Homo sapiens: one gene and its partner. Changing the gene in region 1 together with any one later gene gives a genetic interaction. Each region holds a gene or a part of one and is shown in the gene's direction. Other genes may lie near its edges. The genes, in order: PGK1 and CARS2.

Evidence for each region.
Region 2: changes in PGK1 (region 1) and CARS2 together harm fitness more than expected from each alone (negative genetic interaction), as found in Homo sapiens cells (one large-scale study listed by BioGRID).

What each region holds. Positions count from the first base shown.
Region 1 is NC_000023.11:78,124,748-78,128,563, forward strand, and holds part of PGK1 (phosphoglycerate kinase 1), read left to right. Parts: intron 1-126; coding exon 127-304; intron 305-579; coding exon 580-678; intron 679-1,042; coding exon 1,043-1,083; 3' UTR 1,084-3,816. UniProt on the Homo sapiens protein: Catalyzes one of the two ATP producing reactions in the glycolytic pathway via the reversible conversion of 1,3-diphosphoglycerate to 3-phosphoglycerate.
Region 2 is NC_000013.11:110,685,606-110,689,421, reverse strand, and holds part of CARS2 (probable cysteine--tRNA ligase, mitochondrial), read left to right. Parts: intron 1-1,403; coding exon 1,404-1,475; intron 1,476-1,595; coding exon 1,596-1,701; intron 1,702-3,816. UniProt on the Homo sapiens protein: Mitochondrial cysteine-specific aminoacyl-tRNA synthetase that catalyzes the ATP-dependent ligation of cysteine to tRNA(Cys). In addition to its role as an aminoacyl-tRNA synthetase, has also cysteine persulfide synthase activity.

The sequences.
Region 1 (3,816 bases):
ACTGAAGGGTACTATTTGTTTCTAGAAGAAACTTTGGTGTGCAGCCCTGAGTTCTGGTCTTGGTGGAGGTGGTGTTTAAGTAGCTTTTCTTGATAGCTCATCTTCTCTTTCACCTCTACCCCTCAGGGCTTGGACTGTGGTCCTGAAAGCAGCAAGAAGTATGCTGAGGCTGTCACTCGGGCTAAGCAGATTGTGTGGAATGGTCCTGTGGGGGTATTTGAATGGGAAGCTTTTGCCCGGGGAACCAAAGCTCTCATGGATGAGGTGGTGAAAGCCACTTCTAGGGGCTGCATCACCATCATAGGTAAGCGGTCCTATACAAAGCTAATACCCATATAAGCTGGCAGAATTCTGATCAGAGGAAGGTGGAATGGAGAACTTCTTCTATGTCTCTTTATTCTGGGTAAATGTTAAGAGGTAAACAGGTAGGTAATTTACAGAGGAGCCTCTTGGTAAGATAGAGTTGGGGGTTTATCAGCTACCTTTTGGGTTGGGGAGCACACTGCCTTACAGTTTTGGTGCCAATCCCTTTTTTTTCTTTTCTCTCTTTTCCCTTTTTACCTGGCTTTCATTCAACAGGTGGTGGAGACACTGCCACTTGCTGTGCCAAATGGAACACGGAGGATAAAGTCAGCCATGTGAGCACTGGGGGTGGTGCCAGTTTGGAGCTCCTGGAAGGTGAGGGTCTTCTGTTTTTTGGCTTGTTTGGGATAAGGGTGGACTGTGCAGTGAGAGGTGGGTAGAATGGAGTGGAGAAAGTTAGAAGGTAGTGTTGTCATTAGCAGTCATTACTACCTGGGCAGTACAGAGGAACTTCAGATAAAGCTCCTGGCATCCACTGAGGCGGGGAGGGACAGATAGAAACTTGGTCTGAGAGTTATGGTCTAGTAGACCTGGAATCCACAATGTAAAAGTTGGCCAGCTCCTGGCCATATATCCTAAAAAAGAGCTGGCATGTTATTGGGAAGATAAAGTGGGGGAAATCTGGCTTACTGGGCCCTATAGTAATGCTGTCTATGTATGTGTGCTCTCTCAAAAACAGGTAAAGTCCTTCCTGGGGTGGATGCTCTCAGCAATATTTAGTACTTTCCTGCCTTTTAGTTCCTGTGCACAGCCCCTAAGTCAACTTAGCATTTTCTGCATCTCCACTTGGCATTAGCTAAAACCTTCCATGTCAAGATTCAGCTAGTGGCCAAGAGATGCAGTGCCAGGAACCCTTAAACAGTTGCACAGCATCTCAGCTCATCTTCACTGCACCCTGGATTTGCATACATTCTTCAAGATCCCATTTGAATTTTTTAGTGACTAAACCATTGTGCATTCTAGAGTGCATATATTTATATTTTGCCTGTTAAAAAGAAAGTGAGCAGTGTTAGCTTAGTTCTCTTTTGATGTAGGTTATTATGATTAGCTTTGTCACTGTTTCACTACTCAGCATGGAAACAAGATGAAATTCCATTTGTAGGTAGTGAGACAAAATTGATGATCCATTAAGTAAACAATAAAAGTGTCCATTGAAACCGTGATTTTTTTTTTTTTCCTGTCATACTTTGTTAGGAAGGGTGAGAATAGAATCTTGAGGAACGGATCAGATGTCTATATTGCTGAATGCAAGAAGTGGGGCAGCAGCAGTGGAGAGATGGGACAATTAGATAAATGTCCATTCTTTATCAAGGGCCTACTTTATGGCAGACATTGTGCTAGTGCTTTTATTCTAACTTTTATTTTTATCAGTTACACATGATCATAATTTAAAAAGTCAAGGCTTATAACAAAAAAGCCCCAGCCCATTCCTCCCATTCAAGATTCCCACTCCCCAGAGGTGACCACTTTCAACTCTTGAGTTTTTCAGGTATATACCTCCATGTTTCTAAGTAATATGCTTATATTGTTCACTTCTTTTTTTTTTATTTTTTAAAGAAATCTATTTCATACCATGGAGGAAGGCTCTGTTCCACATATATTTCCACTTCTTCATTCTCTCGGTATAGTTTTGTCACAATTATAGATTAGATCAAAAGTCTACATAACTAATACAGCTGAGCTATGTAGTATGCTATGATTAAATTTACTTATGTAACTTTTATTGTCTTTGGCATTAACAGTGTTTCAAAAAATTTTCTGTGTATACCCATCAGTGATTCATTCCCAAATCTTCTAGAAGCATAAGTGTCTCAATATATTAAAACATATTGAATAATCCTTGTTAGAGTTATCCCTGCAGGAGTCCTTAGTGCTCCTTTATCCAATTTGTACTTGATGCCCTCTAGGCAGGGTGTACAGCTAGCTGTTGCTCTGGTATTTCCTATAACCTTCTTGGGGATTTCTTTTACCTCCTGTGTTAGACTCCTGTTTTCTGGATTCCCCCTTTTCCCTCTTTCTTGGTCTACTTTTTGTAGAACACAAGACTCTACTAGCTTCCTGAGAAAGGGTGCCTGGGAGGCAAAATCTCTAAGACTTTGTAAGTCTGAAAATGTCTTTATTCGACCCTTATACTTGATTCCTAGTTTGGCTATATATAGAATTTTAGCCTGAGTATCACTTTTTGAGACTCGAAGCCACTGTTTCATTGTCACTATTGAGAATCTAAATGGCCATTCGGATTCTTTCATCATCTTTATAATTTTACCTTCCTATTTCTTTCCTGTCCTTTTAATGGAGTTTTGGGAGAGAGCAGAGGTAAACATGATTTGAAAAAGCCATGTCTGACCAGAAATTCTGTGCTGGAAAGATATGTATTTCACCTTTAGGGACAAAGAAATAAACTTTTGGACAGGACCACAGAGCTAGTAAGTAACAGCAGGGATTCAAGTCCAGGTTTGTCTGGTTCCAGTGGCTGATGCTTTTCCAATGTGCCTCCGTCCCTGACATGATGCTTCTAGGCTATAGATGCTTCTAGACTCTATCCCTGACATGATGCTTCTAGACTATTTTGTTTAACCCTGGATAGAATAGCAAAAGAAAATTTTGGTGGTTGCTCTAAACAAAACAGAAATTTGAAAGCTCAAGTTTTTTCTTCATTTGTATTTTAGTTAATACTGTACCCATATTTGTAGTTAATTTTAAATTGTACCATGTTTCTGCATACCTCTATGGGTACTCAGGAATTCTAGTCCAATTTTTGTGACTTTTTCCTACTGATTACCTTTCCTCCAACGTTTTAAAAATTATTTCAAATGGAACTGAAAGAAGCATAAACTCCCATAAACCCAGCACCTAGACTCTACAATTGCCAACATTATCTATCCAACAATCTCTGACTGTACCTTTTAAGTACTTTCTACTGGACTGTTTCCAGGATCACCCCTCATTTATTTGGGTTGTTAACCTAAAGAATGAATGGGGGAATCTCCAGTCATAAACAACTTGTCAATTAGGCAAATATTTGAGTTCCTTCTATGTGCTTAAAGACGTGATAGAGGGAATATAAGAGCATTTATGTTCTGAAGGAATTTTTAACCTAACCAAAGAAGATAGTAGATAACTTGTGTGCATATAAGCTAGAACAGTATAAGGGGCCGGGCATGGTGGCTTACGCCTGTAATCCCAGGACTTTGGGAGGCCAAGGCGGGCAGATCACCTGTCAGGAGTTTGGGACCAGCCTGGCCAACATGGTGAAACCCCGTTTCTACCAAAAATACAAAAATTAGCCGGGCGTGGTGGCGTGTGCCACTGTAGTCCCAGCTATTCAGAAGGCTGAGGCAGGAGAATCACTTGAACCCGGGAGGTGGAGGTTGCAGTGAGCTGAGATCACGCTACTGCATTCCTGCTTGGGCGACAGAGTGAGACTCTGCCTCAAAACAAAAACCCCACAAA
Region 2 (3,816 bases), on another chromosome or scaffold:
TTGGGACCTGGCCCCACGTGTGGCGTTGCGCTTGAGAAAGTTTCTCAGTATTCTAGAGTGGTAATTCCTTCACCTGTGAAATGGGGAGACTTGGTTCCCGAGGCTGCGTGGAGCAGCTCGGAGAGACTAGCAGGTGGCAGGTGCTGTGCTTGGGAGGCCCAAAGGCCATTTGAGCAGGACCAGCAGTTATGATGCCCGGCTCCATTCCAGAGCTTCACAGTGTCTTGTGCATCTGTTCATGTAGAGTTTTTCATTGAAATTATGAAATAACATGAGCGAACCTAGTCTTGTGTCTCAGCCTCCTTGGATAATGTGGCAGGGGCTGCAGATGCGTGCCCCCAAGGCCCCCACATTTGGAATTGATTGGACTGTTTTGATGGTCTATCTCCAGAAACCCAGCCATGGGACCCGAGGGAATGAGTACTCCATTAAATCCCAGTTGTAGTGTGTTAAATTACTTTCAAAATATTTCTTTAGAAGTTCCTTTTTGATCTTTCTTTTTTGTTTGTTTTGGAAGAGAGTCTTGCTCTGTCGCCCAGGCTGGAGTGCAGTGGCACCTTCTTGGCTGACTGCAACCTCCGCCTCCTGAGTTCAAGTGATTCTCCTGCCTCAGCCACCTGAGTCTCTGGGATTACAGGTGTGCACCACCATGCCTGGCTAACTTTTGTATTTTAAGTAGAGACGGGGTTTCACCGTGTTGGCCAGGCTGGTCTCAAACTCCCGGCCTCATGTCATCCACCTGCCTTAGTCTCCCAAAGTGCTGGGATTTATAGCTATGACCCACAACACCCAGCCTCCTCTTTAGTATATTTTTGACTATTTTTTTTTTCTCCTGAGGATTAAGGGATAAGATAGGAACCTAGTTTCTTATCATACAGACTGGACTAGGGTGATTTTGCCCTTGTCTTAGAAAAGTGGAGGATCCTTGGTATGTTTTGTTTTCTATTTTACTTTATTTTTATTTTTGTTTCGGAGATGGTGTCTCGTCCTGTTGCCAAGGATGGGATTGCAGTGGCACGATCATGGCTGTTCGCAGCTTCAACCTCATGGTCTCAAACGATCCACTCATCTTGGCCTCCCAAAGTGTTGGGATTACAGGCGTGAGCCGCTGCACCCAGCTGGTTTGTTTTTTACTATATAATGGAAATTGTGACATTATTTCTTCTCTAACCAGAAGACAAGGTCAATAAGCCTTTTTTTCTAGCTAAGCTACTAGTAAAAGTTCAGTACCTAAAATGAGTGCCCCCGCTTTGGTGAGTGGGTGGGGGCAAACTGAGGCCGAGGCACCGGAGGTGGCCGGGGTATGTTTGCTGTCGTGTTGTGCACGTGGGCTTTCTTGTGGCTGGGTGGTTCTGTTGCGAATGCCCCAGACTCATTAACGTGCACATCTAATCCTTCTGCAGATGAATATTTCCCCCGCTTCCCTCGCCAGTCTTTATGAGGAAGACTTCAAGCAGGACATGGCAGCCCTGAAGGTAAAGTGTGGGGCTGGTTGTTCCTGCCATGAGGGTGACAGGCGTGAGCAATGACAGCTGGTGCTGGCTGACCTGTGCTTCTCACGAGGGAAACACGGTCACGTCTCCACTTCCTTGCAGGTTCTCCCACCCACGGTGTACCTGAGGGTAACCGAAAATATTCCTCAGATAATTTCTTTCATTGAAGGAATCATTGCTCGTGGGAACGCTTATTCAACGGCAAAAGGTAGGGTTTATGTTCTTTTTTTTTTTTTCTTTTTTTTTTTTTGAGACAGAGTTTTACTCTGTCACCCAGGCTGGAGTGCAGTGGTGCTATCTCAGCTCACTGCAACCTCTGCCTCCCTGGTTCAAGCGATTCTCCCGTCTCAGCCTCCTGAATAGCTGGGACTACAAGGTGCGTGCCACCATGCCCGGCTACATTTTTTTTGTTTTGGTATTTTTAGTAGAGATAAGGTTTCACCATGTTGGCCAAGCTGGTCTCAAACTCCTGACCTTGTGATCCACCTGCCTCAGCCTCCCAAAGTGCTGGGATTACAGGCGTGAGCCACTGTGCCCAGCCGGTTTATGTTCTTAAAACTAAAACATTACTGGGATTTGGAGAAACTGGATGTATTTATCAGCTGTAGGAACATACTAAAATTTACTTCTGTCTTGCTAGGATTCCAACAGCAAAGCTGTTGTGGGGTTTTCTACAATATTGTGTCTCTTTGCGAAATGGTTGAATTAGTTCTAAATATCTTTTCCAGGGAGAGGGGAACGTCTGGACAGCTAGTCTTGGTAACAGTCGTGGAATCTAGGTGGTAGGTGTACAGGTGTTCATTGTGGTGTTATTTCATCTTTGTTTAGGTATTTTCCTAACAAAAAGTTGGGGACAAACACAGTACCTCCAGAGACCTGCTCTCTTCTTATTAAAAGTCAGCCCAGGTCACCCCCGTCTGTTTGGCTATCGTTTTTTCACAGGCCATTACGAGTGAGTTGCGGGAGTCAGAGGTTGCAGTGAGCCGAGATCACACCATTGCACTCCAGCCTGGTGACAGAGCAAGACTCCGTCCACCCACCCTCCCCTGCACAAAAAACAAAAAGTTGCAGGGCCAGGCATGGTGGCTGATGCCTGTAATCCCAGTACTTTGGGAGGTGGAAGCGGGTGGATCACTTGAGGCCAAGAATTTGAGACCAGCCTGGGTAACATGTTAAAACCTTCTTTCTACTAAGATGACAAAAAATCAGCCAGGCCTGGTATCGCGCGCCTGTGGTCCCAGCTATTCTGGAGGCTGAGGCATGAGAATTGCTTGCACCCAGGAGGCATAGTTTGCAGTGAGCCGAGATCACACCATTGTACTCCAGCCTGGGTGACATTGCCAGACTGTCTCAAAAAATAAAAATAAAAAAGTGAGTTGCAGGGCTGGGCGTGGTGGCTGATACCTATAATCCCAGCACTTTGGGAGGCAGAGGCAGGTGGATCACTTGAGTCCAGGAGTTCAGGACCAGCCTGGGCAACATGGAGAGACCCCTTCTCTACAAAAATAAAATATAAAAATTAGCTAGGCATGGTGGCGTGCTCCTGTAGTCTCAGCTACTCAGGAGGCCGAGGTGAGAGGATAGATTGAGCCCAGGAAATTCGAGGCTGCAGTGAACCATGATTGTCCCACTGCACACCAGCCTGGGAGACAGAGCGAGACCTTGTCTCAAAAAAAAAAAAAAAAAGCGTGAGTTGCAGATGTTCTGTCGCATCAGCCATGACACTTCAACATGCATCTCTGCATAAAAGGAGTCCAGATGTCATGGTCAGACCTCAGACAATGAAGAATTTCTGGCTAGCTTCGCGTGTCCTCTCTGTATTAAATATACTCACTTGTCCCCAGGGCATGTGCTGCGTGTGCATTTGTTGGTTTAGTCTCCTCACTTTTTCCCCTCCTCTTTCTTTTTTTCTTTTTTTCTCTTTTTTTTTTTTTTTCATTTTTTCTGGGTAAGCACATGTAGATTCAAGACTCTGACAGGTCAGTTTTCCTGTGGAGCAGTCTGTGTTTAGATTTGCATGTTGCTTACTGCAGGTGGTTTCATTGGTTTGCGGATGCTAATCTTTGTCTGGTGGACCCCAGGCAAGGCTGGCGTCTTGCTGTTTTGCTGCTTTGGTGATGAAGCATCGCCATAAATCCGAACTAAATCCCACCCATCCTGGCTGCAAACCCTGACCACAGCCTCATCTCTCCATGAAGTTCTCCTTCACCCAGCACAGTTGAAAGTGAACTTACTTTCTCAGCCTTGATATCTCTGCTGTACCATTTGGCAGCCAGTTCTGCACTGCCATAGTTTGCTGTTTAATGTATTCATATTTTGTCCC